Linked DNA regions of Homo sapiens: region 2 is linked to region 1. The links come from fine-mapping of genetic effects on plasma protein levels. A gene starts in region 1. The other region holds a variant in brackets. All regions are shown on one strand. Distances are between the middles of the regions.

Region 1 (2,895 bases):
TGCAGGCTACATCTTCCTGCTCCTCGCTTTCCCTAGGGACCCATGAAAATATCCGTGATGGGCACTGGCTGCCGGATGGGTGTTTGGAATCCACTCATCTACTCTCCAAGCTCTGGAGTGATTATTTTCCCATTTAAAACAAAAACCAAAAACCTTGCTACAGTATTAAGTTTGAATTAGGGTCTGAACGAAGTTATTGTTTGCTCAGACCCCTCCTCCGCTCTTAAACCTAAACCTCCACTGCCTTCATGTAAATGAGACACCGTGGGGGAACAGTCCTCCCTTCGGGCAGCCAGGCAACCACTTGGCTCACAAGAGCAATCAAGTATCTCCGGCTTGAAAGTTAATAGAGCACTATTATTTCCTAAAAGAAAGGAGAAAATCCGCATCCCAAACAAGTGCATCCTTCCTCGAGGGCCTCCAAACTACCACGTCCAATCATCTCCCAACTCTGAAAAGTTAGAGCAGGTAACCGAGGGATCCTTGCAACGCTGCCAGCCCACCGCAGCGTCGGGCTAAGGCAATCTCCACAGCCCCTGTCCTCTGCTCCAGAATCCTCCACAGTTAGGGGAGTGTGAGGCTCCGAGCGTGTGCAAATCGCGGGATAAAGTCGGGCAGAAGGAATTTAATAGGGAAGTCCCAGGTGGGGCTGTGGTTTGGGACGCGGGTGCCCCCTCGGGTTTGCGGTGGCCTAGGCGAGGAGGAAGCAGGCGGGGGGCGGGGAGGGTGGGGGCTGCATCTTCAAAGGCAGGCGGCTAGCCTAGGCGCAGCGAACTCCAGGATTCGCTGTGGGCCCTGTGCACCCGCTGTTCCAGGAGGCGAGCCCTCCGGAGTGGAGGTGGCCCCGGGCTTTGGCTGGGGTTTCGAGACTCCCTTGCTTCTCCGGGAACAGGGCACCGACGGCATCCCCCCAGCAGCCCGCCCGCTCCCGGCCGGCCACAAGGACCGCTTTGTGCCCGCCAACGGAGAGCCCGGGCCCCAAGGCAGGGCTGGCGGCGGTCCTCCCCGTGCCCTGGGCGCGGGCCCTGGCGGGCTAGGTCAGCAGGCCGGCCAGCCTGTTTACACAGGAAGGGAAGCTCCTCCTCAGCCCGGGAGGGAACAGGAGACTCACGACAGCCCGGCGGGGCTGCGCGCGGGGAGCGCCCCGCGGGGCTGTCCCCCAGCGACTGGCCCACCAGGGAGTGCCCCGAAGGCGCCCTCCGCCCTCAGGCACCGCCTGCGCTCCCCGCCCCTCCGAGACGCCCGCCCGCGGCTGAGTGTGCGACAAAGTTTCTCTGGGCGCCGTGGGCGGCGCGGCTTACCTGCGAGCCGGGGCAGGAGCGCGCAGAGCCCCAGGAGGCAGGCGTACAGCGGCGCCGGGGCCCGCGGCATGGTGGGGCGCCTCCCTCAGCGGCGGCGCGGTCGCTGCACTCCGCGGGGGCCGGCGGCCGGGGCTGGGGCCGGAGCGCGGGGGCCGAGGGCCGGGGGCCGCAGCCGCATGCCCCGCGCGCAGCTCCGGCTCACGGCGCCCGCGCTGGCCCGCGCCCCGCCGCCACCATCCGTCCCGCAGCACTCACGGCCGAGTCCCGGGACCGCGGCTGCCCTGGCTGGCCGGCCGGGACTCCTAGTGTGTCGCCGCTCGGGACGGCCCCAGCGGGCTGCTCCGGGTAGGGGAGGGGCTGGCTCCGCTCGGCGGCCGCGACTTGGGCTCCGAGACGCGCCCAGCGCCGAGACTCCCCCGCGCGCCGGCACACTCTGCCCCTGGCCTCCGCCCCTTCCCTTCCTCCCTCCGGCCCGCCAGGCTCCACTTTCCTCCTCTCCTTTCTCCTCCCCTTCTCTCCCCTGCCAGGCCCTCGCCCGGCCGCCACACGGTCAGCTTACGGTGAGGCGGGGCGGGGCGAGCTCCGGGCCGGGCCAGCTCCGCCCTGTGCGGGGACCGGCCCGGGACGCGGAGGCCCTACGGGCCCAGGTGGAAGTCGCTTGCGACTCACTTGGGGCGTGGGGGGCTCGAAACCACTGAGTAGAGCCCGCTCCCGTTGCTTAGCCGCCCGTCGCCACGGGAAAGGGGCGGGGCACGCTGTATTAGGCGAGCCGAGATTACTTGGGCCAAAGGCGGTTGCTAGACTGCGAGAGGGAGAGCAGGTACGGGGGTCGTGCCGGTACCGCCTCATCCTCCCAAAGCCTCACTGCCGGCGGCCTGAGATGGGACGTAGACGCCCGCGCGTGGAACCGCAAAGCGACTTCTGGATGAGCAAGGGAGGGCGTGGTGGGGCGTGGAGGCACAAGTAAAACCTACATTTCTTTTTCTTTTCTTTTTTTTTTTTTTTTGAGACAGCGTCTTGCTCTCACTCAGGCTGGAGTGCACTGGCCCAGTCTTGGCTCACTGCAGCCTGGACCTCCTGGGCTCAAAGGTTCCTCCACCTTAGCCTCCTGAGTAACTGGGACTACAGGCGCGCGCCACCACACCCGGACAATTTTTACATGTTTTGTAGAGATGGGGGTCTCGCTGTGTTGCTCAGGTTAGTCTTGAACTCCTGGGCTCAAGCATTCCTCCTGTGTCTGCCTCCTAAAGTGCTGAGATTACAGGTGCGAGCCACCGTGCCCGGCCCACTTTTCACTTTTTAACTTTTGCACCTTTCAAGGATTTGAGACTGGCCAATATGCCGCTATATTTCGTTGTCCTTACTGATAATCTGTCAGTTTCCATGATCAAACTGATAGACTCAAAAACATATGCTCAGGCTTTCATCTTATCATTTACATATAAGCTGGATCTGAACTAGCCAATAAAGAGTGGGGTGGGGTCTTCCTCAGATGGTGCAGGAAAGGATGCCTTGGGCTTGGATTCGCTACAAGTGCGTTTAGAGTGGAGTGGTTGATAGGCAAGAGAAGAGGCGACATTCAGGTAGGGGAAAA
Region 2 (2,895 bases), 91 kb before region 1:
CACAGGTTGCAGTGAGCTGAGATTGTGCCACTGCACTCCAGCCTAGGCAACAGAGCGAGACTTCATCTCAAAAAAAAAAAGAAACAAGAAAGAAAGAGAGAGAGAGAGGAAGGGAGAAGGGAGGAGAAGGAGGAGGAGAAGGAGAAGAAGAAGAAGAAAATAAAAAAAGGTGAATGTATTGTCAGGGTGCATCCATGTAAGCAGAATGTCCAAATCACAGGAAACGCATGCTTCACTGAACCCTGGACCAAGCCCTCATCATCCAGCATGACAAGTAACGCACTTGATTATGTGAAGCATGCTTCACAAATGATAGCACCCTCGGACAAGGAAGAGACTTGGGGTGTCTAGCCTAGATCAGAAGAGAGAACAGAGAAACATAAAGCAGCTTTTAGATGTTTGACAGGTTGTCACGTGGAAGGGGGACTCTAGAATGTTAACCATTGGGAGGAAGTTATTGAGAAACAAGTTTCTCTTCAGTATAAAGAGGAATTCTGGGCCGGGCACAGTGGCTCACGTCTATAATCCCAGTACTTTGGGAGGCTGTGGATGGATCACTTGAGATCACGAGTTCAAGACCAGCCTGGCCAACATGGTGAAACCCCGTCTCTACTAAAAATACAAAAATTAGCCGAGTGTGGTGGCGGGCGCCTATAATCCCAGCTACTCGGGAGTCTGAGGCAGGAGAATTGCTTGAACCTGGGAGGCAGAGGTTGCAGTGAGTCGAGATCCTGCCATTGCACTCCAGCCTGGGCAACAGAGTGAGACTCCATCTCAGAAAAAAAAAAAAGAGGAATTCTGGCAGGAAAAATAAGAGCCCCCAGAGATGTCCACATCCTAATCCCTGGAACCTGTGACTGTGTGGCCTTACGTGGTGAAAGGGACTGTGCAGATGTGAGTAAGCTGAGGACCTGGGGATGGGGAGACTTTCCAGGGTTCGACTGAGGGTCCCTTGTAACCACAAGGGTCTGTAGGAGAGGGAGAAGGATTTGACAACAGAAGCAGAGGTCAGAGTCAGAGAGATCTGAGGATGTTACTCTGCTGGTTTTGAAAATGGAAGAAGGAGCTGCAAGCCAAAGAATACAGGTGGCCTCTAGGAACTGGAAAAGGCCGGGACACAGATTCTCCCCTGGAGCTTCTAGGAGGTATGCAGCCCTGCTGGCACCTTGATTCTAGCCAAATAAGATCCATTTCAGACTTCTGGCCTCCAGAACTGTAATGGATTAAATGTGTATTATTTTAAGCCAACAGGTTTGTGGTGAGTTATGGGAGCAGCAATAAGATATGAGTTCATTGGCTAAGGGACAGATGGCCACTGCCAGCCCCAGTGAGTTCCCCGTCCCAGGAGGCAATCAAGAAGAGGCTGAACATCTCTACCTGTCAGGAATGCTGTGCAGGCCAGTCCTGCATGAATTGGGAAGTAAGGTGGATGACCCACGCAGGCCCCTCGAATTCTGAGAGTCCACAATTTATGGCAATACCTTCTGCTTTCGTATTCTGCACACAGATCCCCACCTCCTGCCTACGGGTAGCAAGGCTTGCCCACTGTCTTCTCCAAGGAGAGCCATGGTAGTGACACTTTCTACCACCACTGAGTAAAAGGCAGGCTTTGGGAGGGTGTCCTAACGGCATCTTGGCCTGGCTCAGAGCTAAAGTGCTTGCTGGGGACACTTACCTGAGCAGAGGACTCCCTTGTTCCTGGCACAGGAGAAGTTGTCGCACTCACAGAAAGGCCCATAGATCTTGCCAAACTCGCTCTCGAAGCAGGAGCACTGGTTGCAGCTGCAGTCCCCA[C/T]GCCCGCTGCACAGTGGCTTGCCCTCTGCCTCCCGGCACAGGTTCTGGTACACGCTCTGGTTCTCCCCATCCTGGCACTCGCACCTGGTGCCCAGGTAGCCGGGGCTGCACTCACACAGGCCGCAGACATAGGTCCCGCTCCCGTTGCACCTGGCGCTGTTGGGTTCCAGCCCCACGCTGCAGCCGCACGTGCAGTTGTAGGTGACCCCCACCTCCAGGCTGTCCCGGAATCCCACCGGCCGCAGGGCAAACACATGCTCCGTGTGTCTGCTGGGACAGCTTCGGGCCTCCAATGATACTTCAAAAGATGCCTGGGCAGAAGGAAGAGAAGGGATATCATGGCTGCGGCAAGCCAGGGTCTCCCATTCACCCAGGGGCAGGGCCCTTGATGAAGAGCAGCTGCGAACTCCAGCCCTCTCCACGCACTCAGGTAGAACCACCAAGATGGCCGGAGTAGGAAGAGACCTCAGAACCAGCAAGCTCCCATGCTTCATGGAGAAGAGAATGCACAGGTGAGCTCACATTTGACAGGTGAATTCTTTAACATTCATTATCTCTTTGCATCCCCATGACCCTGAGGAAATGGGCCCCTGCGGAAAGCTATAGGGCTTCCTTGAGTTCACACAGTTCTTATTCTCCCTTTCTTTTCTCTTCTGTCCTATCCTCTTCCCAGCCCCGCTGCAGATGCCTCTTCTCTGCTCACTTAAAAAGTCATTTGGTGGAAAAACATTTCCTGGGCGCTGCCTCTGTGCCAGGCACAATGGCACTCTCACAGGGTGCCGGGTGAAGGGCACCCACCTGGCCCGCCATAGAGAGGGCTCTGTGCCTGCTGGCAAAGGGCTCAGCTGACTCCAGAGCTTGCTCTCCAGACACCCCCGAGTCCCCCGTGCCCCAATTCCTCCTCTGTGAGTGCTTGTCATAGCTGCATCTTTCACAATCCCCCCATGCCCCTGAGGTCTTAAAGAAGAGTCTCCAACTGATGAAATGCACCATGCACATGGACAGACCTTTTCTTTTTAAACAGAATATGTAAGGAAGTGTTTCTCACTCAGGAGCTTCTCACAGATTGCCTTGAAAACAGGCTCAAGGTGGGCCTGGATG

Direction of the effects. Alleles are on the strand shown, and positions count from the first base shown. The strength of an association depends on the size of the effect and on how common the allele is.
For the plasma level of the protein whose gene starts at base 1,736 in region 1, allele T in region 2 goes with a lower level than allele C (weak association).

Evidence for each region. PIP is the posterior inclusion probability: the model's chance that the variant is causal. Protein levels are from antibody-based Olink assays in UK Biobank. Linkage for the fine-mapping came from a reference panel and not from the study's own genotypes, which makes the PIPs less certain.
Region 2: its variant is fine-mapped to the plasma level of the ITGB5 protein (UK Biobank, PIP above 0.99). The variant lies in the coding sequence of ITGB5. If it changes the protein, the assay may bind it differently, which can mimic a change of level.

Annotation. Positions count from the first base shown.
Region 1 is chr3:124,885,630-124,888,524 of GRCh38, forward strand. ITGB5 (integrin subunit beta 5) reads right to left here and starts at 1,736. Exons shown (of 15, transcript NM_002213.5): 1 at 1,302-1,736. The coding sequence starts at 1,371. RefSeq lists enhancers at 1-460, 2,229-2,895 and silencers at 1,125-1,214, 1,675-2,114.
Region 2 is chr3:124,794,713-124,797,607 of GRCh38, forward strand. ITGB5 (integrin subunit beta 5) reads right to left here. Exons shown (of 15, transcript NM_002213.5): 10 at 1,676-2,105. It overlaps LOC124909422 (a long non-coding RNA gene), which reads right to left and starts at 1,663. Exons shown (of 2, transcript XR_007096043.1): 1 at 1-1,663. The variant C/T (reference allele first, on the strand shown) is at 1,795.